Linked DNA regions of Homo sapiens. The protein of the gene in region 6 purifies or fractionates together with the protein of the main gene of each other region. This does not show direct contact. Each region holds a gene or a part of one and is shown on either strand. Other genes may lie near its edges. The genes, in order: MSN, HIP1R, AKR1C2, PLOD1, WARS1, GART and PFAS.

Evidence for each region.
Region 1: the proteins of GART (region 6) and MSN fractionate together in Homo sapiens (co-fractionation; one large-scale study listed by BioGRID). This does not show direct contact.
Region 2: the proteins of GART (region 6) and HIP1R fractionate together in Homo sapiens (co-fractionation; one large-scale study listed by BioGRID). This does not show direct contact.
Region 3: the proteins of GART (region 6) and AKR1C2 fractionate together in Homo sapiens (co-fractionation; one large-scale study listed by BioGRID). This does not show direct contact.
Region 4: the proteins of GART (region 6) and PLOD1 fractionate together in Homo sapiens (co-fractionation; one large-scale study listed by BioGRID). This does not show direct contact.
Region 5: the proteins of GART (region 6) and WARS1 fractionate together in Homo sapiens (co-fractionation; one large-scale study listed by BioGRID). This does not show direct contact.
Region 7: the proteins of GART (region 6) and PFAS fractionate together in Homo sapiens (co-fractionation; one large-scale study listed by BioGRID). This does not show direct contact.

The regions. Positions count from the first base shown.
Region 1 is NC_000023.11:65,674,154-65,677,653, reverse strand, and holds part of MSN (moesin), read right to left. Parts: intron 1-3,500. UniProt on the Homo sapiens protein: Ezrin-radixin-moesin (ERM) family protein that connects the actin cytoskeleton to the plasma membrane and thereby regulates the structure and function of specific domains of the cell cortex.
Region 2 is NC_000012.12:122,848,957-122,852,456, reverse strand, and holds part of HIP1R (huntingtin-interacting protein 1-related protein), read right to left. Parts: intron 2,583-3,500; coding exon 2,502-2,582; intron 1,623-2,501; coding exon 1,546-1,622; intron 1,222-1,545; coding exon 1,160-1,221; intron 1-1,159. UniProt on the Homo sapiens protein: Component of clathrin-coated pits and vesicles, that may link the endocytic machinery to the actin cytoskeleton. Binds 3-phosphoinositides (via ENTH domain).
Region 3 is NC_000010.11:4,987,275-4,990,566, forward strand, and holds the end of AKR1C2 (aldo-keto reductase family 1 member C2), read right to left. Parts: intron 2,765-3,292; coding exon 2,722-2,764; 3' UTR 501-2,721; downstream 1-500. UniProt on the Homo sapiens protein: Cytosolic aldo-keto reductase that catalyzes the NADH and NADPH-dependent reduction of ketosteroids to hydroxysteroids.
Region 4 is NC_000001.11:11,951,717-11,955,216, reverse strand, and holds part of PLOD1 (procollagen-lysine,2-oxoglutarate 5-dioxygenase 1 isoform 2 precursor), read right to left. Parts: intron 2,595-3,500; coding exon 2,482-2,594; intron 388-2,481; coding exon 324-387; intron 1-323. UniProt on the Homo sapiens protein: Part of a complex composed of PLOD1, P3H3 and P3H4 that catalyzes hydroxylation of lysine residues in collagen alpha chains and is required for normal assembly and cross-linkling of collagen fibrils.
Region 5 is NC_000014.9:100,365,348-100,368,847, forward strand, and holds part of WARS1 (tryptophan--tRNA ligase, cytoplasmic), read right to left. Parts: intron 1,697-3,500; exon of another isoform or gene 1,241-1,696; intron 1-1,240. UniProt on the Homo sapiens protein: Catalyzes the attachment of tryptophan to tRNA(Trp) in a two-step reaction: tryptophan is first activated by ATP to form Trp-AMP and then transferred to the acceptor end of the tRNA(Trp).
Region 6 is NC_000021.9:33,521,618-33,525,117, reverse strand, and holds part of GART (trifunctional purine biosynthetic protein adenosine-3), read left to right. Parts: intron 1-117; coding exon 118-349; coding exon of another isoform or gene 350-353; exon of another isoform or gene 354-1,109; intron 1,110-2,835; coding exon 2,836-2,930; intron 2,931-3,500. UniProt on the Homo sapiens protein: Trifunctional enzyme that catalyzes three distinct reactions as part of the 'de novo' inosine monophosphate biosynthetic pathway.
Region 7 is NC_000017.11:8,259,289-8,262,788, reverse strand, and holds part of PFAS (phosphoribosylformylglycinamidine synthase), read right to left. Parts: intron 1-3,500. UniProt on the Homo sapiens protein: Phosphoribosylformylglycinamidine synthase involved in the purines biosynthetic pathway. Catalyzes the ATP-dependent conversion of formylglycinamide ribonucleotide (FGAR) and glutamine to yield formylglycinamidine ribonucleotide (FGAM) and glutamate.

The DNA.
Region 1 (3,500 bases), on a different chromosome or scaffold from region 6:
CCCAAGTAGCTGGGATTACAGGCTCCCGCCAACACGCCCGGCTATTTTTTCTATTTTTAGTAGAGACAAGGTTTCACCATATTGGCCAGGCTGGTCTCAAATTCCTGACCTCAAATGATCCACCTGCCTCAGCCTCTCAAAGTGCTGGGATTACAGGCATGAGCCACCACACGCAAACTCCATGTGCCTCTTTCTAATATTGCTGATATTTTCATGTTGGAGAAAAAGAAAATTAAAAGGCAAAGAAGTTATGTGACTTTTCTTCTTTGTAAAGGAATTAGTCAGTCTCCCACAAGTATCTACAAGGATGTTTGGAGAGGAGTTTAGCTCACTTAAAACCCTTGAAAATAGCAAAGATTTGTACGACTTAACTAATGATGCCCAGATTGACTGTTACCTTGACCCTCACCCTCCAACTCTATACCATAGATTAGTCAACCTCAGTTAAAAATTACAACAGATAAAAGAGGCTCTTGGTGAGCTTCATCAAACATCCAGGCTGAGAATCTGAAAAAATAAATGGATCAGCCAGGCGCAGTGCCTCACGCTTGTAATCCCAGCACTTTGGGAGGCTGAAGCAGGCAGATCACCCGAGGTCAGGAGTTCAAGACCAGCCTGGCCAACATGGTGAAACCTCATCTCTACTAAAAAAAATATAAAAATTAGCCGGGCGTGGCGGCGCACACCTGTAGTCCCAGCTACTTGGGTGGCTGAGGCAGGAGAATCTCTTGAACCCAGGAGATGGAGGTTGCAGTGAGCCAAAGTCATGCCACTGCACTCCAGCCTGGGCAACAGAGCAAGACTCCGTCTCAAAAAAAAAAGAAAAGAAAAAAAAGGAAATGGATCATGGGTTGGAGGGAAGGCAGATTAGATCACGAAAGTAAGATCAGGAACCTTATCTAAACACACAACTTGAGAAAAATAAGACTTGATCCTTCTCAGGTATTTAATGGAGGCCAAGGCTAAAGAGAGGGAAAGAAATACTGATCAAGCCTGACAGGTATGCCTTGTTCCCCCTCCTAGGCCTTGGCCCCAGTCACTTCCCAAATATATACCCAGGAAAAAAATTTTCAGGATTATATCTTGTTTTGTACAACCAAATTGTCATATCTCAACTCTTCTCTCATTAGGCCCTGATCACTACCCTGGATGCACAAAGTATCTATCAAATTCCCACAAGGTAGAAGGGTTGCCAGGAATGGGAAGAAACTTCAATATTCGAAGTCACCAATCACAGAAGATAACTGGCAAAACAGTTCTACTAAGCAAGCACAGAGCCATTTGCCATATTAGTGGCCTAAGAGCTATGTCAACACTTACCTTATGCCACAACAAGCCGATTGAAAGGAGCATCAGATCTGGTATCTGTGTCATTAGGCACAGACAAAGGGCTGTGCTTTGAAAGTCGCCCAAAAGGCCTTTTCTCCAAATTCAAGACCCAGATGCTGCAGCTGTGCCCTGGCCAGAAAACGTCATACTCCTCCACCTCTAACAACCACACACTGAGAAATCCTCCCTGCCATCTCCACCCTTTCCCAAATACCTGATTTTATAGCAAAGTCAATGAGAGAATTAAAAGCTGTTTCTAGGCTGCTGACATAAAGTTATTGCCAAGCTCTATTCTTTGGTTTAGTTCATGTGTAAGCATGAAGAAAAGACCCTCTCACATACCTACTTAGGCAACAAAAGCAACATTTTTAAAAATTAATTTGCCCAGGCTGGGCGTGGTGGCTCACACCTGTAATCCCACCACTTTGGGAGGCTGAGGCGGGTGGATCACCTGAGGTCAGAAGTTCAAGACCAGCCTGGCCAACATGGTGAAACCCCATCTCTACTAAAAATACAAAAATTGGCTGGGCGTGGTGGCGCATGCCTGTAATCCCAGCTATTTGGGAGGCTGAGGAACGAGAATCGCTTGAACCCAGGAGGCGGAGGTTGCAGTGAGCCAAGATTGCACCATTGCACTCCAGCCTGGGCAACAGAGCTAGACTCCATCTCAAAAAAAAAAAAATTAATTTGCCCAATTCTGGAAAACCAAAGGTATGGTCTCCCCCACAGGCCCTTGTTTGCCAATTAAGAAAGGATTGTTGGATCCAAATTACCCTAGAAAGAGTAGCTTCATCTATGCTTATATCTGTGGCTCCCCTTGAATCAGTCAGCAGCTCAAGCCTCCCTTCACTTCAGATAAAGTAACTTTCAAGAGAGCATTGGTCTAGGGCCATTGGTTTACACCCACATACCAAAAACACATCACTTTCCCACCCAGAACGGCCACTGCTCCCAAGTGTACACACCCTTTAAGGCCCTGTTCATGTCCCAGTAAACCCTTTCTCCTCAAAAAGTTGTAGAAAATGCAATGCAAAGTATATATTTTTCTCAAGCCGTTTTTAAGTGAATTAGCCCTAAATCCCCAATTAAATAGGAGATAGGAGATCTTTGAAGGCAGCAGTTGTATCATCCCTTCATTTATTTCTATCCCTTATGGTAAATAGTACATAGTAACCACTCATTAAATGGTAAGAATTCAACTACCTGTCTTCTTTCTTATCCATCCCATCTAGCACAAAGTTAGGCATATAGTAAAATTCAGTAAATAATCATAACATTTGTATATCACTTGTTAGATTCTAGGCACAGTTCTAAGCCCTTTACATAAATTACCTCATGTAATCCTCACAGCAACTCTGTAAGTACTATTATTATTTATGGTTAAGGAAAATGAGGTGCAGAAGTTAAATAACTTGTCCAAGGCTATATAACTAGTTGGTCGCAGAGCTAGATTTGAGTCCAGGCAGTCTAGTTCCAGAGTCTGTTTTTCAACACTACTCTATGCTTCCTTTCCACGGAGGCTTGAAAGGTCTTTTTTTAGCTTCCTGCCCCAGGCTTGGCCTATAAGCACCTAGAGGTGAGTGGTGAACTTTGAGGCCAGGAGATTCTAGTCTGCATTCAAACAATTTGCTACAGCAGCAAATACTGTCACTAAATTGAAAAAGTGCCATACTGTTCTCCTAACTCAAGGGACAGATCAAGCTGGAGCGCTGAGTCAGAATTCAGAATTCAAAAAGGTCAGAGCTCAAAATTAAACAGGGCAAAGAGAAAGCAGGGAACTGGGGTGAGGGGTAGACAGGAAGAGAAGACAGTCATCGGAGATCCCAGAAAAACTTGCTATAGCAAAACCATTTTAGGGGAACTCCATTGTACCCATCTTGTTAATGTAATCACCACAGAGCCAGTTCTCTGGAAGTCTGTGCTCTCTGGGTGGAGTCATCCTTCTAAGACAGCCAAGTCCAGTGGGAGACCACTAACTTGGGAATTAGGAAATCCAAGTTCTCCTTTCAATACTGTTACCAACTATATGTGACCTCGAACAAGCTGCCTAACCCCTCTGGCTATGAATACGATGAAGAAATTACTCTCTAAAGTTTCTTAGGACAGCAAGGCCTAGTCTCAAGCAGGAAAATGTGACTAGTGTCCTCTCTCTACCTCCCTTCAGCCTACAC
Region 2 (3,500 bases), on a different chromosome or scaffold from region 6:
GGTAACTGGCTCCTACCTGGTGGGCTCTGTGCTGAGAGGCTCAGGCTCAGCACATCTCTGCCAGGACACAGAGCCTGGTAGCCCTGTCCTGCTGCACAGTTGGGGCCACACCTTTGGACACCTGCCCTCTGCTCTCCATGTCAGATCCTGAGCAGGCTCTTCCCAGGCACAAGGGTCCAACTCTGAGCCCACCTCCCACCCACTGGAACTGAATACCCATCAGGCTCGCCCAGCTGCACTGGCCAGACCTGGGGACTCAGGGAGGCTGCCCAAACTGCCTCTAACTCCCAATTTTCCCTTAAGGAGGCATTTGCTTCTTGCCCTCTTATGGAGAGCACTGAGTCACCCATGAGTTGTTTTGAAGCTGCCACCCAGAACAATCAGTTCTCCAGCCTGGAAGCTGAGCCCTCTGAGATTTCCTGTCCAACAGCGGCCGGGTTCCCTCGCTAGGAAGTCTGACGTGACTCAGAGGCTTTCTAGAGCAGAAAATGGCAGGACGACCCAAACCTTTCTTCCAGCTGGGCTCTGCAGATGGCCCAAGGCTGGGGCAGGAACCTGGCAAGGTGGCTCCTGTGCACACCTCCTCACCCTCCCTGTCTTGGGGCTGATGGAGTGACACTCACTGGATGGAAGAGATGGCTGAACCTGTATCCTGGATGTACCCGCTGGGGCCTGCCATGCTTTGGAGGGGCCAGGAGGCCCCATTACCTATCCCTGGAGGTGCAGGGACCCCAGGAGGGGCAGGGGCATTTCTTTTTCTTTTTTTTTTTTTTAAGACGGAGACTCACTCTGTTGCCCAGGCTGGAGTGTAGCGGCATGATCTCCGCCGCCCAGGTTCAAGTGATTCTCCTGCCTCAGCCTCCCAAGTAGCTGGGAATACAGGCGTGCGCCACCACGCCTGGCTAATTTTTATATTTTTTTAGTAGAGACAGGGTTTCACCATGTTGGCCAGGCTGGTCTTGAACCCCTGACCTCAAGCAATCTGCCTGCCTCGGCCTCCCAAAATGCTGGGATTACAGATGTGAGCCACTGCGGCTGGCCAGGGTCATTTCATAGTGATCAGTTGGTCTGATCACTCATGTCTTCTTTTTTCTTCTCGTCCCATCTCTGGGGACTTAGCAATACACTCAGACCCCCGCATCCCCTCTTTACGGCTCACCTGATTCAGAAAGCTTCAGCTCACAATCCATGTAATCAAACATCTCCACAGTGAGCTGGAAGCTACGCAAGAGAAGTGGGGGAAGAAATGAAAAAGGGTGGGTGGACCCACCCACTCGTCCTGAGACGCCCCCTCCAGTGGGGACGGGGGCACCGCCGACACCATGGCTCTGGTGAGACAGCGTGCCTCTGCCAGGACGACAGTCCTTCAAGTACACCCCACCCTTTTAACTTCACCCTCTGTCCCTGGGAGCGTGAGCATCAACCAACAAAGCCACGGACTCATTCAACCCCACTGCCCCATGCGGACGCCTGGGCGTGAGACGCGGTAGGAAGGAATGGGGAAGCCGAGGGGAACTGGCTATGTAGCCATGCAGAGTGACTCACATGTTGTTGACATCGGTCCCAGCTGCCTTCTCCAGTACCTCATCTGTCACCTCCAGGCCCGCGGGAAACTGGGGATGCTGTGGAGAGAACCCCCACCCAGCGGCCACTGAACCAGGGCCCCCCCACACCTGGCGGCCACCGAACCAGGGCTCCCCCCCACCCAGCGGCCACTGAACCAGGGCCCCCCACACCCAGCGGCCACCGAACCAGGGCCCCCCAACCCAGCGGCCACCGAACCAGGGGGCCCCCCCACCCAGCGGCCACCGAACCAGGGCCCCCCCCACCCAGTGGCCACCGAACCAGGGCCCCCCCCACCCAGCGGCCACCGAACCAGGGCCCCCCCACCCAGCAGCCACCGAACCAGGGGGCCCCCCCACCCAGCGGCCACCGAACCAGGGCCCCCCCCACCCAGCGGCCACCGAACCAGGGCCCCCCCCACCCAGCGGCCACCGAACCAGGGCCCCCCCACCCAGCAGCCACCGAACCAGGGGGCCCCCCAACCCAGCGGCCACCGAACCAGGGCCCCCCCCACCCAGCGGCCACTGAACCAGGGCCCCCCCAACCCAGCGGCCACTGAACCAGGGGGCCCCACGCTGGACCCTGCTCTTGGCAGACCCAGGCTGTGGCCCACATAGGTGGCAGAGGGCAGTGGAGGGGTTGGGAGGAGGGGAGCACCCGGCCAGCACAGCAGAGACTGAGGAAGCCCAGCGCTCATGTCCACAGAAACGCCTGGGGAAGCCCGTGCCCACGTCCACGGAAATGCCTGAAGTGTTCTAGGAGCTTCGTGATGCCCTGGCTTCCCCGTCTCCCCTTTAGTCATAGTTGGGACAAGAAGGTGAATGGAAAGACTCATGGAGAGGACAGATCCCACCCTCGATGTCCCAACATGTGCCATAACGTCACAGTGGGAAAAGCCCACGGGTCCCTCAGCCCCATGACTCCCCCGAGGAAACCACCTTGAGGTGGAAGGAGATCTTGGTCAGCAGCAGCTTGGTGTAGACATTCACCAGCTGTCCGTAGCGGTCATGCAAATGTCCCTGTGTGAAGACAGACAGGGTGAGGGGCCACGGCTCGTGAACACGTCCAAGAGTCCTCAAGGACCTGGGCACGAGAGTGACCCACCACCGGGCACTTCTTCATTCAACAAACGTCTTCTCCTGGCCTCCACCAACCACCCTCTCTGTCTCTAGCTTTTTCCCTTAATCTTCCTCCTTGTCATTCCTGCCAAAGAAACTCTTGTGAGAAGAGAGCTCTTTGTCCAGGGCGGCAGGCCAGTTCTGAGCAGGGACGCTTTATTAAAGTGCTGGTGCTGGCAGGGAGGCACGTCCCGACGGGCGCCTGGACACATCCTCCCTGCTCCCTCCTCCAGCCCCACGGCCCCTGCGGCCGGGCCAGCTGGGCCTGCATCTGCAGGTGGCACCATGGGCAGTGTTTTCCTCGCTTCAAGGGAAGTGAGTCCGGGCAGTGGTTCTGGGTTGGATAACGCCCTGGTCAGGCCTCCCTGTGGGTACCCGGTCCAGGGCCTGCCCTGCTCCTATGTCCCTGCCCAGGCAGACGAGCACCCCACAGTGCTCCAGAGAGAACCAGGCCAAGGCCCTCTGCCCACCAGGGACATCTCTAACTCCTGAGGTCTTGCAGTGCATCCAGATTGCAGGCCCCCCAGGGCTCTCAGGCCTTACTGTGTGTGTGCTCAAAATGCAGACCTCCAGTCCTGATTCTTCAGCAGCAGGTCTGGGGGAGCCCAGGAACCTGCGCCCTGCCACAGGCTCTCTAACCACCGAGGTGCCCGGGCTGTGGTCTTGCCACATTTCCCAACTCGTGAGGACTAAAGGGCCCGGGTGACTTCGACGCTGGAGGGCCCACTGGTTATGCGTGTGGAGCGCCCTGGGCCAGGCCCTCAAAGGCAGGCAGCATCTCCCCGTGCTGCCCCTCCCACTGTCGCCCCTGGGAAAACC
Region 3 (3,292 bases), on a different chromosome or scaffold from region 6:
CTAATGCTATCATGTCCCCACCATGACACAGTTGCCTAACAAAGCCATTCTCAGAAGATAGCCCAGGCATTATGCAACACATGACTGTCATTGGTGACAGGGAAGGAGTCACTTGTGCCATTTTCAATGTTTTCCTACCAGGTTTATAGCTTTCTATCCTTTATATCCACTGTTACCATTTTGTGAGGTGGCGTGATTTTTTTTTAATGACATTTGGATTCCCTTCTCATTTCCTCTTGCGTATATTCATAATTATTCTCTTTGTGATTGCTGTGGTGATGATGAAAAACTTTATAAAGTTATGACAATTTACTTTAAATCAATATGAATTTAACTTCAGTTTCATCTAAAACCATCCACTTCCCCAGGTTTTCTCCACTTCACATAGTTTTGGTCAGTAATTACAGCTTCCTACATTGCATACGTATTAGCTTAGAATTATACTTATTTCTATACATTTATATCTTAAATTGAAGTAAAATAATGAGTAGAATCCAAAATTTCAAAAATACATGTTTTTATATTTTACCATATGTTCACATTTACAAGAAGTCTTTATAACTCTATATGGCTGTAAGTTACTATTTCCTTTCATTCAACCTGAATTCCTCCCTTCAGCATTTCTTTGAGAGAAAAAATAGGAAAATTAGTGATTGGAGGTCCCTATAAAATTTTCTTACATCTCAAGTGTTCCTGAAATCAGGTGTTTGGCTTTATGAAATTCTGAGTAACTTTTTTTTTTTAACAATAAGAGTTTTATAAAAATGGATGGTGAAGAACTGGAAAAAGCCCACAGCAGCCGTACTATTTACAAATGACTGACCTAATGATTATTTCACATCTTGAAAAAAGAGTTACACGTGCTATAGAGATTTGAAATATGAAAGTCTGCTTAAGCGTTACACACTTGGCTACGAAGTTTTAACAAAATGTCAATCTTTTCTTGACACTTACATCAGTCAAGTTTATGAGATGTGAAATTATCATTCCATAGACTCAGAAAGTTAAGGTAGAACAGGATGGCCATGGTTTACATGAGATTTCTTTGAGACATGCTAAGTGTGAATGTCCATTAAACTTTAACATGGAGATGCAGAGTTCACATTATGATCTTCCATTGAAGATTTGGAGGAAAACGCTGAGCTAGAAATATTTTTTGGTGGATTTCTCAGCCTAGAGGTGATATTTAATGCAGAGAATATCTAAGATCATCAACGGAATGAGAGTAGACCAGAAATAATCCAAAAAATTGGTCTAGGGCCCTCCAAAGTTTATGGCCTCTTCCAATTTTATAGAATAAGTAATTTACAGAAAAATTGTGAGCTGCAAAACTTGCTGGGATGCCTATCAGCTCTGAGACATGGCTTGAGAAGGAATCTCTGATGGGGTTAACATGGCTACCAGAGTACGAATAGTGGAGAGTAAATGTGTTAGAAAGTGTGCCCAGGTAAAAAACCACTGTCCTTCTCATAATGCTTTGATCATTAAGACATGAGATTATCCCAAGTTTTCAAAAGTGTTTTCTAAAACGAAAATCATGTCTTCATGATTAGCTGATTTGATTAGTTCCCCTGAAAATTATGTATAAGAATTAAATGCCTTTGTAAGAGTTCTTCTTAAAATTTACCAAAGTTTGAAACCAGTGTGCTGTTTTACATAGCCTGTTTCCAAAAGACATTTGAAGTCTTGGAACATTTGATTTATTAGATGTATTATTTCCCATTTTAATCTTGAGTGCCATGCATAATGGCTTTGGGATATTTATGTTTTATACTTGTAACTATGCCTTGTTTAAAGTATAAAACATTTAAAAGATTGCATATAACAAATGAACAGTACATTTTTACAATCTAAGAATATTTTCTAAATATGAGCTATTCAGGGGAATGTGATGAGTCAATGATATCTTCGATGTCCTGCCCCACCACAAACCAATAGGGTCAACGTTGTGAATGGGCACACATCAAAGATTCAGGCCTGACTCTCAGCTGTGGGGTTTGTTAAAACAATGTGGAAAGTTTTCTTTTATGAACAAGATATAATGATCAAAAAAAAGGGTGTTGATATGTTTTTCCAAGCAGAGATGTACTCGACTCTGTCCTATTTAGCCTTCCCATACCTGACTTCTAATCACTTTTCCTGGTGCCCTCCCATCTCCCTAACCCCCCCTCACAGGGATGCCTCCTCCCAAGGCTCCAGAAACTCTGACCCTCGCACTGCTGGAGGGAGCCCATGAATTGCTAGTCAATATCGCTCATCCTCTAGACTCCATCCTGCGTGTGCTTCTTCCTACAAGAGCTAGAGAGGCACTGACTGATAAATACCTGTCACCTGCCCCTTTCCCAGAGGGTGAAACTCCACCCACTCCCACTGCAGAAATGAATCTTAAATGGTTGTTAACATCTTCCAACCCCGGCCCTAAACGTATAGGCAAATCACAATTTGGGGGCACTAGTGTGTCAGAAGGAGAGAAAACATAGAAGTTATGGAGACCAAAGTAGGTGAAGAATCTTTAGGAGAGAGCATTTAATTTTTTCAAAATGAAAAACAAAATTATTGTCTTTCTTTTCCGGCCGATGGGCTTAGCTGTAGCTTACTGAAGTCGCCAAGCAGGAGAGATTTAACCAGAGGCGATGTGTCCAGTCACCAGCATAGAGCCATCCTCTGTGTCACCATCCACACGCAGGGCCTTCTGGCAGACCTCATGCAATGCCCTCCATGTTAATATTCATCAGAAAATGGATAATTAGGGGGGCCAGCAAAACTGGAAAGAGAAAAAAAAATGCACACTCTGAATGGCAATGACTCCGTTACTAGCCCGTAGCGCAGTGATTTCTAGGAAGCTGCCGCTAGTGTAGATGTTAAGAAGTTCATTTTCTGACTGCTCTAGAATCTGTGTTTCTTTGTTTAATGAACGTGACTTTATCATATCTGTATTTTCAAAATAAAGAATAATTTAATTCTATTCCCCTGCCTGGAACTTAACACATAAAACACACAAAGTGAAATGTTCAAACATGTTTCTCTACATCTCTCAACAACAGATCCCACATCTGTCAACAAAGAGATATTCTGACCTTTTCTATTTCAAATTCTCACTAAAAACAGGAACTCCTTCTGCCTTACATTGAAGAGGAATAAGGAAGATATATGCTCATCACTAATAAACAATTTTGAGTGTGATAATTATACTGGTAGTAATTGTACTTTATTTTATTACTTTACATATTACTTACTACCTGCCTATCATACGCAACACACTTGGTTAGATTAGAAACGTAAATTATTGTTT
Region 4 (3,500 bases), on a different chromosome or scaffold from region 6:
GGAAGGTGGGAGGGCCGGGAAAGTGGGGAAAGAGGGCCCACCTGTAAGGACCTGGTATGCAGGGCAGGGGGTCCAGCACCTGCTGTGCGCATCCCCCAACTCCTCCCAGGCTGAATGCTCACTTGTCCCCCGCCCCCAAGAGAGACATGGCTCTGCGCCAGGATATCCAAGTGGCCCCTGGGGACCTGGGGATGAGGCCAGTGACCTCTCAGCACAATGGCCAGAAAGAAGCAGCCCATTTCTCCTCCCTGGGCTCGGGCCCTGCCTGGAATTCTTCCTATCACCCCTCTGAGGATCCACCCCTCCCCGTGGGGGCTGCTCACCCAAGGCTCCATCCAGGTTCTGGAAGATACGGCAGCGGTGGTCCAGGGTGATATTGATCTGCTCCTGCAGGAAAGAAGGTACCAGACTGCAGCAGGGACAGGCCCTGGGGGAGGCTGGGGCTACATCTCACCCAGTGTGGGGAATCTGTCCCCAAGTTCAGCCCTCATTCCCCACACCGACTCTGCCACGTCACATCAGGGCAGCTAGGTGCCCAGAGAAGGCCAGCAGCCAAGCTCCTGGGGTCTACAGTCTAGTGGCTCTACTCACAGAAAACCAGGGACTCTGAACTGGAAGGAATCTAAGAATGCAGCCGGCTCACCTACAACAATGACGGCCGTTAAGAGTAACCAGCACCTGCCAAGCACTCCACTACACGCACATAGCTACTCCAAATATTCTTTTTTTTGAGAAAGAGTTTCGCTCTTGTCACCCAGGCTGGAGTGCAATGGCACGACCTCGACTCACTGCAACCTCCGCCTCCTGGGTTCAAGCGATTCTCCTGCCTCAGACTCCTGAGTAGCTGGGACTACGGGCATGTGCCACCATACCCAGCTAATTTTTTTTTTTTTTTTTTTTTTTTTTGCTAGAGATGGGATTTCACCACATTGAGCAGGCTGGTCTCGAACTCCTGACCTCAGGTGATCCGCCCCCGCCCCCCGCCTCCCAAAGTGCTGGGATGACAGGTGTGAGCCACCGCACCTGGCCGCTACTCCAAATATTCTACACGAGTCGGGTGCGGTGGCTCACTCCTGTCATTCCAGCACTTTGGGAGGCTGAGGCAGAAGGATCACTTGAGCCCAGGAGTTTGAGACCAGCTTGGGCAACATAGCAAAACTTCATCTCTATAAAAAAATCTTAAAATTAGCCAGACATGGTGACGCAGGCCTATAGTCCCAGCTACTCAGGAGGCTGAGGTGGGAGGATCGCTTGAGTCCGGGAGGCTGAGGCTGCAGTGAGCTATGTTTCTGCCACTGCGCATCAGCCTGGGTGACAGTGAGACCCTGTCTCAAATAAATAAATAAACTATTCTACATATATTAATCAATTTAATCCTGACAACATCTCTGTGAGAAAGTATTATCATTATTGCTTTTTTTTTTGAGATGGAGTCTGGCTCTTGTCACCCAGGCTGCAGTGCAATGGCACAATCTCGGCTCACTGCAACCTCCGCCTCCCAGGTCCAAGCAATTCTCCTGCCTCAGCCTCCTGAGTAGCTGGGATTACAGGCACCCACCACCACGCACGGCTAATCTTTATATTTTTAGTAGAGACAGGGTTTCATCATGTTGGCCAGGCTGGTCTCAAACTCCTGACCTCAGGTGATCCACCCGCTTTGGCCTCCAAAGTGCTGGGATTACAGGCATGAGCCACTGGGTCTGGCCCATTATTGCATTTCATAACGGAAAAAACAAGGGACAGAGAAGTTGCCCAATGTCACACAGCTAGTAAATGGTGAGCTGGGATTGGAACCCAGGCAGCCTGGCCCTGAAGTCCTTATTCTGAACCAATGAACAATGCTGCCTCTTTAAGACCCGACAGCCGGGCACGGTGGCTCACGACTGTAATCCCAGCACTTTGAGAGGCCGAGGCGGGTAAATCACCTGAGGACAGGAGTTCGAGACCAGCCTGGCGAACGTAGTGAAACCCTGTCTCTACTAAAAATACAAAAATCAGCCAAACGTGGTGGTGCACGCCTGTAGTCCCCGCTACTCGAGACGCTGAGGCTCGAGAATCGCTTGAACCAGGGAGGTAGAGGCTGTAGTGAGCCGAGATCGCACCACTGTACTCTAGCCTGGGCAATACAGTGAGACTCCATCCCAAAAATAAAAAAATAGGATTAGTGTCCTTATCAATGAGGCCCCAGTGAGCTCCCTACCCCCTTCCACCATCTGAGGACACAGAGAGAAGTCAGCTGTGTCTGTACCAGTTAGAGGGCTCTGACCAGAACCCAACTGTGATCTCACCCTTCCGGCCTCCAGAACCATGAGAAATCCACATCCGTTGTTTGGGAGCCACCCAGCCTATGGCAGTTTGTCAGAGCAGCCTGCATAGACTAAGACACCAACCCAGGGGTTCAGGCCTGAGAGGAGCTGTTCCCGTGCAGCCTGGCCGGTGGATCCCCAGCCCCCTCTCCTTGGCCCGCCCACTGCCTCTTACCCTCTTCTCCGGGTCCAAGAAGATCTTGGTGTAAAACAGCTGATCGCTGTCGCTGTCCTGGCCCTCCCACTCGGCCACCAGTTTGCTGAGGTTGGGGGCATAACCGATGAAGCCTGAAGGTTGGTGGGTGGGGACACCAAGACGGACCCTTAGCTTCCAGCCTCTAAGTCAGGGGCCTCCTCCCACCCTTCCCTCTTATCCACCTCCACTCATATGCCCACAAACCCTGTCACCTCTCAGAAGTCCTCCTGAATTGACAGGAGGTGGGGCTGCAGGTTGGAAATGGGGCTGCCAGTGAATGTCACTTATTAATGAGTTCCTAATGACCCCAAGAATAAGACCAATGGTGCCCACTAAGCTGTACTGTTCAGTGCTGGGCACCATATAGGTGGTGAAGAAACGGATTGTACGAGGAGCCCCTGGAGAGCAGGGCTGGGAGGATACAGGCCTGGTGTCCCTTTTTACAGTTATCTGGGAAACCTGGCCCAGAGAAGGGAAAGGCTGGGCCAAGCTCACAGAGTGCCTTGGGGGCTGAGACCTGGCATAGTGGGGAAGCCCACATGGGCCCCTGGCTAGAGTACAGACTGGTGACAAGCAACCACAAGAGCAATGGGACATCCCTACTCCTGGGCCTGGGCCAGGGCAAGGCCATCTGGACTGTGCTTACTCTGGACCAGTGGAAAAAAGTGTCTGTTGAGGGCAGATGGCAGATCCCCATCTAAGGTTGAAAAGAGGCCTGTGGATTTTATTCTCCGTGCAGTGGAAAGTCATTAAGTGATGTGTGTGAATTTGCATCTTTATTTATTTATTTATTTTTAAGACAATGTCTCGCTCTGTCGCCCAGGCTGGAGTGCAGTGGCACGATCTCGGCTCACTGCAAGCTCCGCCTCCCGGGTTCATGCCATTCTCCTGCCTCAGCCTCCCGAGTAGCTGGGACTACAGGCGCCTGCCACCACACCTGGCTAATTTTTTGTATTTTTAGTGGAGACGGGGTTTCATCGTGTTAGCCAGGATGGTCT
Region 5 (3,500 bases), on a different chromosome or scaffold from region 6:
GGCGGGCGGATCACCTGAGATCAGGAGTTCAAGATTAGCCTGGCCAACATGGCAAGACCCCCTCTCTACTAAAAATACAAAAATTAGCCGGGTGTGGTGGCGGGCGCCTGCAGTCCCAGCTACTTACGAGGCCAGGGCAGGAGAATCGCTCGAACTCAGGAGGCAGAGGTTGTAGTGAGCCAAGACTGTGCCAGTGCACTCCAGCCTGGGCGACAGAGTGAGACTCAGCCTCAAAAAAAAAAAAAAAAAAAAAGTGATGGAAGTCATGGAGAAGCCGGAGTGGAGTCACCCCAGAAGGAAATGAAATGCTTATGTTCTAGTTAAAGATGCGTATTGATGATGATATTTCTGAAATCTACTACAACAAAAGCAGAGATCTTCTTTTTTTTTTTTTTTTTTAAAGCATAATCCCACAAGGACAAAGGAAACAAGAAGAGGATGACAGCAACAAGGTTTCAGAAGCCAGAAAGCTGATGAATGATCAGTGCCTAACAGCATGAGAGAAAAACAAATGCTAAGACATCATGGAAATACTGGAAGGTGACCGAGTGTACACTGTTACGGAATCACCCAAAGGTTCGGGCCTTAGTGACCTTGCGCACTTACAGGAGTGGGGGCAGGAAAGCGGGTTATGAAAACAGGAGCGCTGGTTGAAGTCTCTTCAAGAAGCAGTTATTGAGAATCCCTCTCCCCTCGGCCAAGGGAGTGTCACAGTTTCCCCTCCATTCCAAGGTTTCATGTCAAGAGAGGACAGAGTTACAGGTGCCTAGACTGGGGGCAGTCTGCACAGTTGGGGCACTGGCAGCACACAGAGAATAGGGAGCTTCGGGGAAGGATCCCACAGCCCAGCCCTTCTCTCCCACTCAGCCGTAGAACTCTGGCAGCGGGACTCACCCCCTCTGAACAGTGGACTGGGGGAGCTTTCTCTGGGGAATCTCACTTAACTTTAAAGAAAAGATCTAAAGACCTTGACACGAAAGATTCCCCAACAAAAGGGGAGCAGCCTGGTCACTCTCCAGGAAGTGGAACCTATGTTGATAAGCTCTTCCCCAATGAAGAGTGCATCCAGCAGCTTTCAGTGCACCCCCCAAAACACCAGCAAATAGCCAAGAAACACCAAACAGTTGAGAATTGCCTCTAATATGAAAGGCAGGTAGAAAACAAATTAAGATGGAAGAAACTGAGGTTATAAAGGATGTAGAGGACATATGGAAAACTACCATTAAGATCTCAGAGAGAGAGAGTTGAGTGTCCTGAGAGGTCAGATTGCTGTCAGACATGGCCCATGGACATGGACATGAGCATGGACATCGTAAAATGGAACTTCTAGATTACAGACAACGGAAGACAGAAGGGACACCATTAGAAACTATCCAGAAGAAGCTGGCTGAAAAAGGGCTAAGGGATCCGTGGGGCCACAATGAAGCTTGAAGATACATGGGTGGCTTTGCAAAGAGTGTTTCCTTTTTTGATGTATTGTTTAAAGGATTCAAATGGGGATTTGCTGCATTTGTGGTAGCTGTAGGAGCTGAATATTACCTGGAGTCCCTGAATAAAGATAAGAAGCATCACTGAAGATAATACCTGGAAGTATCATAGTGGTTTCTTAACTCTCCAAAATAAGATTTCTTCACTGTAGCCTACTCGTCTGGTTTGTCCCTTACAGAATATTAGTAAGATTTAATACAGTAAAATAAGATTAAAAAAAAAAATCTCAGAGAGAAAAGGGTGGTACTGTACCTATGAGTCAGGGCAGAGTGCTGTGAGGAAACTTCAGGGAGCATACATGCTCCTGGAAGTTAAAAATGATAGCAGAAATGGAAAACAATAGGAGGGTTAGAAAATCAGAGAAACAGTCTCTGAATTAAAAAAAAAAGTCTGTGAAGAGAGAAAACAGAAGAGATCAAAGAAATCATGATTTCTGAGAATTAACGGCCATGAGTTTCTAGTCTAAAAGGCAGGCTGAGTGTGGTGGCTCACGCCTGTAATCCCAGCACTTTCGGAGGCCGAGGTGGGCAGATCATGAGGTCAGGAGTTTGAGATCAGCCTGGCTAATATAGTGAAACCCCGTCTCTACTAAAAATACAAAAATTAGCCTGGTATGGTGGCGGATGCCTGTAATCCCAGCTACTTGGGAGGCTAAGACAGGAGAACTGCTTGAACCCAGGAGGCGGAGGTTGCGGTGAGTCGAGATTGTGCCACCACACTCCAGCCTGGGTGAAAGAGTGAGATTCCATCTCGGGGGGCGGGGGTGGGGTGGCAAAAAAAAAAAAAAAAAAAAAAAGAAAGGCATACTGAACCTGCATCCCATGAAATTTCAGAACACGGGAACAAAGAAGATCCTGCTAACTTCCAAAAAGAAAAAACAAAGGAATGGCAACTGACTTCTCTGCAGCAAGCCCAGAAGCTAGGTGCCAATAGAGCAGTGGCTTCAGCATTTCCAGGGGAAATCACTTCCATGCTAGAACCCTACACCCAGCCTGGCTATCAATCATGTTTTAGGTAAAATAAATACGCTTTCAGATGGGCAAGATCCCCCTAGAAATATTTCCTTTGCAATATTTTTTTCAGAAACAATTGGAAGATTTGCTCTGCCCAAAGAGTAAAGCAAAGAGGAATAAAGATGCAGGAGCAGGAAACGGGGCACCCAATCGACAGGGGTGAAAGAACCCCTTGGGTCGACAGTGAAGAAAGACGCCAAGATGGGCAGTGTAGGAAGCAAGAGCCCCCACTTCAGAGGGAAGCAGGCAGAAGGTTTTGGGAGAGATCGCCTCAAGAAGATGAACTTGATAGACTAGTTGATGTGTGTTGAAAGGAGATTCACTGGACAGGGAAAGGGCTTGGAGATACATTATCATTAGTATCATTGACATAAAAAAGTCAAGCAAACAGATATTAAGACAAATATTAACTCCAGAGAAAACAAAAGCTGGGCGAGAAAGTTAGAGTACTCATTCTATCCGTGATGGTTCAGCTGTCCACGTCTATTTCCATGGTCATAATAATGTCAGTGTACAGATACTGACCTAACTACAACTGCAATACAGATGGGGAGACTGCCTGGACGGGAAGTGGTTGTGAAGGTACGAATGCTTCATTTCCACCTGAAAGACCCCAACTTGAAAATCAACAAGGAACAATATGATAAGCAGAATATTTACAGATATGGGGAGTACATAACCAAAAGATCGGCTAAAAGAATTGAGCAGGAAATAGGGAGAGGTGGGCTGGAGGGCCACTGTATTTCACAAAGGCTTTGAGAACCCCTGACTCTTTAGACCACAGGCATCCCAATGTTGATAAAGGAAAAATACATTTAAAACTATAACCAAGGCTGGCGTGGTGGCTCATGCTGGTAATCCCAGCACTTTGGGAGGCCAAGGTGGACAGATCACCTGAGGTCAGGGGTTTGAGACCAGCCTGACCAACGTGGTGAAACCCCCATCTCTACTAAAAATACAAAATTAGCTGGGTGTGGTGGTGCATGCCTGTAATCCCAG
Region 6 (3,500 bases):
ACCGCACCTAGCCAAGTTAAAAAAAAAAAAAAAGAAACTTGTGGAAATCGTAAATCACTTCACGGTGTGAAATACTGTTGCTATTTGAAATCATATGTCAAATATGCTCTCTTCTAGGGTTTCCTGAGGCTCAAGCTCTAGGACTGGAGGTGTTCCATGCAGGCACTGCCCTCAAAAATGGCAAAGTAGTAACTCATGGGGGTAGAGTTCTTGCAGTCACAGCCATCCGGGAAAATCTCATATCAGCCCTTGAGGAAGCCAAGAAAGGACTAGCTGCTATAAAGTTTGAGGGAGCAATTTATAGGAAAGACGTCGGCTTTCGTGCCATAGCTTTCCTCCAGCAGCCCAGGTAAAACTCTAAGCAAGTTAGCTGTAGTGCCATTTCAGAAACTGGCCTAAATGGCTATGTAGAACATTTCATTAACCCTATAAGTCATTCAGTATTCTTTTCTCTCTGTGGGAGTGATACAGTCTTGGTTTGTATTTTGTTTGAATCAAAACTGGTTATAGCAATACTCAAATGGAAAAAACTTCATGATAGCGTAAGTTTGGAAAGTTTAGCAAAATCACAGTGGTACTGATTTTTATTTGTTTTCTATTTTTTTTATTTTATATTTTTAATTTTTTTAACAGGGTCTTCCTCTCTCGCCCAAGTTCTCATGCCTCAGCCTCCCAAATAGCTGGGACTACAGGCACAGGCCACCACACCTGGCTAATTTTTTTGTATTTTTTGTGGAGATGGGGTTTCACCATGTTGCCAAGGCCAGTCTGAAATCCTGGGCTCAAGTGATCCTCCTGCTTTGGCCTCCCAAAATGCTGGGATTATAGGCATGAGCCGCTGCACTTGGCCTGATACTGATTTTTATTCCTTGCGTTATCACATAGTGTTGTATTTGAAACATAGTTCATGGTTTTATCAAAGAACTGAAGATGAGAATACTGGTCATCTAACTTTGTAATTTGATTTGATTATACTGTAAAGTTTGACAGTCTCATTTTATCACTGCGTTTGTATCTATTACTAAAATGTATTTTTTGACCTCTTACTGATTCATTGTTGGTATGTACAAACTGTTGACTTGTAAAATCAATAAAGTCTTAGTTGGAAATGTGGGTGTTTTGATTTCTTTTTTTTTTTTTTTTTTTTTTTGAGACAGAATTTTGCTCTTGTCGCCCAGGCTGGAGTGCAGTGGCATGATCTCGCCTCACTGCAACCTCCACCTCCCGGGTTCAAGTGATTCCCCTTCCTCAGCCTCCTGAGTAGCTGGGATTACAGGTGCCTGCCACCGTGCCCAGCTAATTTTTGTGTTTTTGGTAGACATGGGGTTTCACCATGTTGGCCGGGCTGGTCTCGAACTCCTGACCTCAGGTGATCTGCCTGCCTCAGCCTCACCAAGTACTGGGATTACAGGCGTGAGCCACCGTGCCCGGCCTGATTTCTTAAAAATATATCACATTTGCTATTGTTCGTGAAGTTCATTTACGGATAATGAATAAATTTTAAGACAAAATTTTTTTACCAACGTAATTCAAGCTATACTGTTACCAAGAGGCAGGTTTTTTTAAAGTTTAAACACAGATTTTCCAAGAATCAAGAACATCAAAATACCAGGCTAAAAATTTATTTTTCATTTAAAAATGACTAGATTCCATTGAAATGACCTATTTCAAGGGACTGCAATCTCAATTCTAGTCTGAATTATTTAAGTTATAAAGATGAAAAAATGGAAATGCCACAGTGTTAGTTGCTACTGGAGAAAAGGTTTTTTAACATCAGTCTTTGTTTTCTATCTGAGAGTGACCCAGAGCTGCTGGCTTTATTTGAGTTAACTGCCAATGCACTCAACTGTATTCTGGCAGCTTTTTTGTTTTTTGTTTTTGTATGCTTTTTTTAAAGACACTTCTATAAAAACACATATTTCTTCATGTATCACTGCATCCCAGCAGGCCAGAGTTCTCATTTTTGCAAGTCAAGACTACAAAATCTGCAGTGTCATTCAAAAATTTGATCTCTAAATGTACTGCTCCGACTTGTGGGTCCTATACAGAAGGAAATGATGCACTGAGTATCTTTACCTGGTTTTGCTTTTGTCATAGTGTTTACTGTCCTCAGCTATTAGGAAACAGATACAGTTATATATTACTGAAATTAAGAACTCAGTTTAATTATTTAGGGATACTTGTGTACGGTTTTTACAAATCTAATTTTCACTTTTTTGACTTGATTAGGCATTCCTCTCTTGTTCATACCAAAATTGAACTGAGAAAAGTTGCAGCAAAATGTCAGTATATCTACTTTTAAACAGATGGTTGCCAGGGTCTGGGGTAGTGGGGAATGGGGAGTTATTTAACTGGGACAGACGTTCAGTTTTACAAGATAAAGGATTATGGAGATGGATGATGGTGCCGGGTGCACAGCATTATAATTGTATTCAATACTATTGAACTGTTCACTTAAAAATGGTTAAGATGCTGAATTTTATGTTGTGTATATTCTACCTTAATAAAAAATCATTTAAAAGAATCAGTATATTTAGCAGCCTGTGAGAAGTACTTGTAGAAGAAATAGGTGATTGAGTTAGAATAGCGGTTCTCAGGGATGATGTAATCAAGTCAACTGGGGAGATGGTTCAAACTCATTTCAATTCCCAGAGCCTGCCCTAGACCAGTTAAATCAGAATCTGTATAGATGTGGCCCAGGCACTGACTTTAAAAAAATTTAAGCACTTTAGGGTATGTGAAAATCACTTGGGATATCTTCTGCTTTAAATAATATTTTAAGATTAAAATAATTTTCCCTGACGTTTAGGTGATGACTTGTTTTTAATTCTTTAGGAGTTTGACTTACAAGGAATCTGGAGTAGATATCGCAGCTGGAAATATGCTGGTCAAGAAAATTCAGCCTTTAGCAAAAGCCACTTCCAGATCAGGTCAGTGATCCTATACTTTGCTAATTCATTAACTTTGATATACATTGTGAATGGATTTGGGTTTTATATTTAACAGGAATATTTTCCAAAGCAATGCTTGGTTACTGTAAGTTTTGCCCTGCTTAAGCCAAACCCAGTCTTCTGCTTTCTTTTCTTTAATATTAAAGTATTTCTCATCTGTCATGTTAAACTCAAAAGGATATGTATGCTCCTTTACTTTTTTTTTTTTTTTTTTTGAGACAAGAGTCTTGCCCAGGCTGGAGTGCAATGGCACCATCTCGGCTCACTGCAACCTCTGCATCCTGATTTCAAGCGATTCTCCTGCCTCAGTCTCCCAAGTAATTGGGATTATAGGCACCCACCATCATGCCTGGCTAATTTTTGTATTTTTGTAGAGACATGATTTCACCATGTTGGCCAAGCTGGTCTTGAACTCCTGACCTCAGGCAATCTGCCCACCTCAGCCTCCCAAAGTGCTGGGATTATAGGCATGAGCCACCATGTCTGGCTGGTCCTTTAGTATTTAATTACTTCCTTTTTTTTTTTTTTTTTTTTTGAGACAAAGTCTGG
Region 7 (3,500 bases), on a different chromosome or scaffold from region 6:
AGTCTCGCTCTGTTGTCCAGGCTGAAGTACAGTGGTGTGATCTCAGCTCACTGCAACCTCCGTCTCCTGGGTTCAAGCGATATTCCTGCCTCAGCCTCCTGAGTAGCTGGGACTACAGGCGCCTGCTATCGTGCCCGGCTAATTTTTGTATTTTTTCAGTAGAGACAGGGTTTCACCATCTTGGCCAGGCTGGTCTCAAACTCCTGACCTCAGGTGATCCGCCCACCTCGGCCTCCCAAAGTGTTGGGATTACAGTCGTGAGCCACCCTGCCTAGCCCAGAAGCCTTACCACTTGACTGGGTTGATAGGAGAGTAAACTGATATCAACTACGGAGGACGATTTGGCAATAACAACCAAAATGACAAATGCACACAGTCTCTGATTGGGTAAATACACTTTGAGGAAGTCATCCCGCTGATTTATTTGCACAGGTATAAAATCACCTACTTACAAGATTAAACACCACAGTAACGTTTGTATTAGCAAGTACATGAAATAACCTAAAGGCTGACAACAGAGACCTCATTAAGTAAACTATGGTAAGTCTATACAATGAAAGACTAAGCCACCAAAAAAAGAGAATATAGGAATGTAATGAAGTAATATGATTTCATCAATATGAAATTATTTCCAAGATATACTGCTAAGCGAAAAATGAAAAAGGCAAAAATATCTATGTCTATTTACAGTAGCATCAAAAAGAATAAAAATAATTAGGAATAAATTTAACAATAGAAGTAAGGCTTATACACTAAAAACTTTTTTTTTTTTTGAGATGGGGTCTTGCTCGGTTGCCCAGGCTGGAGTGCAGTGATGCAATCTCGGCTCACTGCAACCTCTGGATGCGGAAGGGTCCTGAAGCCTGGGGGCTCCAGGGTAGAAACTGTGGGAGAACTCACCCATACTCCCAGCACTTTGGGAGACTGAGGCGGGCGGATCGCTTGAGCTCAGGAATTCGAGACCAGCCTGGCTAACACAGTGAAATCCAATCTTTACAAAAAATGCAAAAATTAGCCAGGCATGGTGGCCGGAGCTTGTAGTCTCAGCTACTCAGGAGGCTAAGGTGGGAGGATTGCCTGAGCCCGGAAGATGGAGGTTGCAGTGAGCTGAGATCGCACCACTGCACTCCAGCCTGGGTGACAGAGTGAGATCCCATCTCAAAAAAGAAAAAAGAAATAGGAAAGGATCTGAATAGATGTTTCTCTAAGGAAGATATACGCATAGCTAACTAGCATACGAAAACATGCTCGGCCAGGTGCGGTGGCTCACGCCTGTAATCCTAGCACTTTGGGAGGCTGAGGCGGGTGGATTACCTGAGCTCAGGAGTTTGAGACCAGCCTGGGCAACACGGTGAAACCCCATCTCTACTAAAATACAAAAGAAATTAGCTAGGTGTGGTGGCACGTGCCTGTAATCCCAGCTATTTGGGAGGCTGAGGCAGGGGAATTGCTTGAACCCGGGAGGCGGAGGTTGCAGTGAGCTGAGATTGCGCCATTGCACTCCAGCCTGAGTAACAGAGCAAGACTCTGTCTCTACAAAAAAAAAAAAGAAAGAAAGAAAACACGCTCAACATCATTAGTCATTAGAGAAAAACAAACCAAATCCACAATGAAATACTGCTTCATACCCACTATTATGCCTTACAATCAAAAGGACAGATATTAACAAGTGTTGTCAAGCATGTGGAGAAACTGGAACCCTCACACACTGCCAGAGAGAATGTAAAATGGTACAGCTGCTTTGGAAAACAGTTTGGCAATTTTTTGAAAAGCTGAACATAGTTACCACATGACCCAGCAATTCCACCCCTAGTTATATACCTGGGAGAAATTATAACATATGTTCATACAAAAACTTGTACATAGGCCGGGCGCGGTGGCTCACGCCTGTAATCCCAGCACTTTGGGAGGCTGAGGCAGGCGGATCACGAGATCGGGAGATAGAGACCACCCTGGCTAACACGGCAAAACCCCGTCTCTGCTAAAAACACATAAAATTAGCCGGGCGTGGTGGTGGGCACCTGTGGTCCCAGCTACTCGGGAGGCTGAGGCAGGAGAGTGGCGTGAACCCGGGAGGCGGGGCTTGCAGTGAGCCGAGAAAGCGCCATTACGCTCCAGCTTGGGCGACAGAGCGAGACTCCGTCTCAAAAAAACCAAACCAAAACAAAACAAAAAAACTTGTACATAAATGTTCATAGCAGCATTATGCATAATAGCTAAAAAGCTGAAACAACCCCAATGTCCACCAACTAAGGAATGGGTAAACAAAATGCGACATAGCTACATAATGGGATATTATTCAGCCATAAAAAGAAATAAAGTACTGATGCAACGGATAACCCCTGAAAACATTAAGCTAAGTGAAAGAAGGCAGACACAAAAGGCCGCATATTGTATGATTCCATTTTGGTCATGGGCTGACTAATGACATTTTGCTTAACAACAGACCACATATACAACAGTGATCCCTTAAGATTATAATTGTGCTGAAAAATTCCTATTGCCTAGTGGCATCGTGGCACGCTGGTGGGTGATGCTATTGTAAATAAACCTACTATACTGCCAGTCACACAAAAGTATACTGCAAACCATTATTGTATGTATACTACATAATACTTCATAATGACAATAAATGACTATTACTGGTTTATGTATTTACCACACTTAAAAAAAAATTTTTTTTTTTTTGAGACAGAGTCTCACTCTTACGTCCAGACTGGAGTGCAGTGGCGTAAACTTGGCTCACTGCAACCTCCACCTCCCAGGTTCAAGTGATTCTCCTGCCTCAGCCTCCCGAGTAGCTGGGATTATAGGTGCGCGCCACCACACCCAGCTAATATTTGAATTTTTGGCAGAGAGGGGGTTTCACCATGTTGGCCAGGCTGGTCTTGAACTCCTGACCTCAGGTGATCTGCCCACCATGGCCTCCCAAAGTGCTGGGATTACAGGCGTGAGCCACCACACTCAGCCTACATTTATTTTTTATTTTTATTCTTTTTTGGAGACAGGGTTTCACTCTGTCACTCATGCTGGAGTGCAGTGGTATGATCATAGCTCACTACAGCCTTGAGCTCCTTGGCTCAAGCGATCTTCCCACCTAAGCCTCCTGGGTAGCTGGGACTACAGGTGTACACCACCATATCCAGCTAAGTTTTATTTCTTAATTTTTTTAGAGACAGGGGTCTGACTGTATTCCCCAGACTGGTCTCAAACTCCTGGCCTCAAGTAATCCCCCTGCCTTGGCCTCCCAAAGTGCTGGGATTACAGGCGTGAGCCACTGTGCCCAACCAACTATACTTTTTACTGTTATTTTAGAATGTACTCATTCTACTTATATAAAGCAAGTTTATTCTGGCTGGGCACCATGGCTCACACCTGTAATCCCAGTGCTTTGGAAGGCTGAAGCAGGAGAACTGCTTGAGCCCAGGAGCTCAAGGCCACAGTGAGCTAGGACAGAACCACTGTTCTTCAGCCTGGGTGACAAAGTAACACCCTGTCTC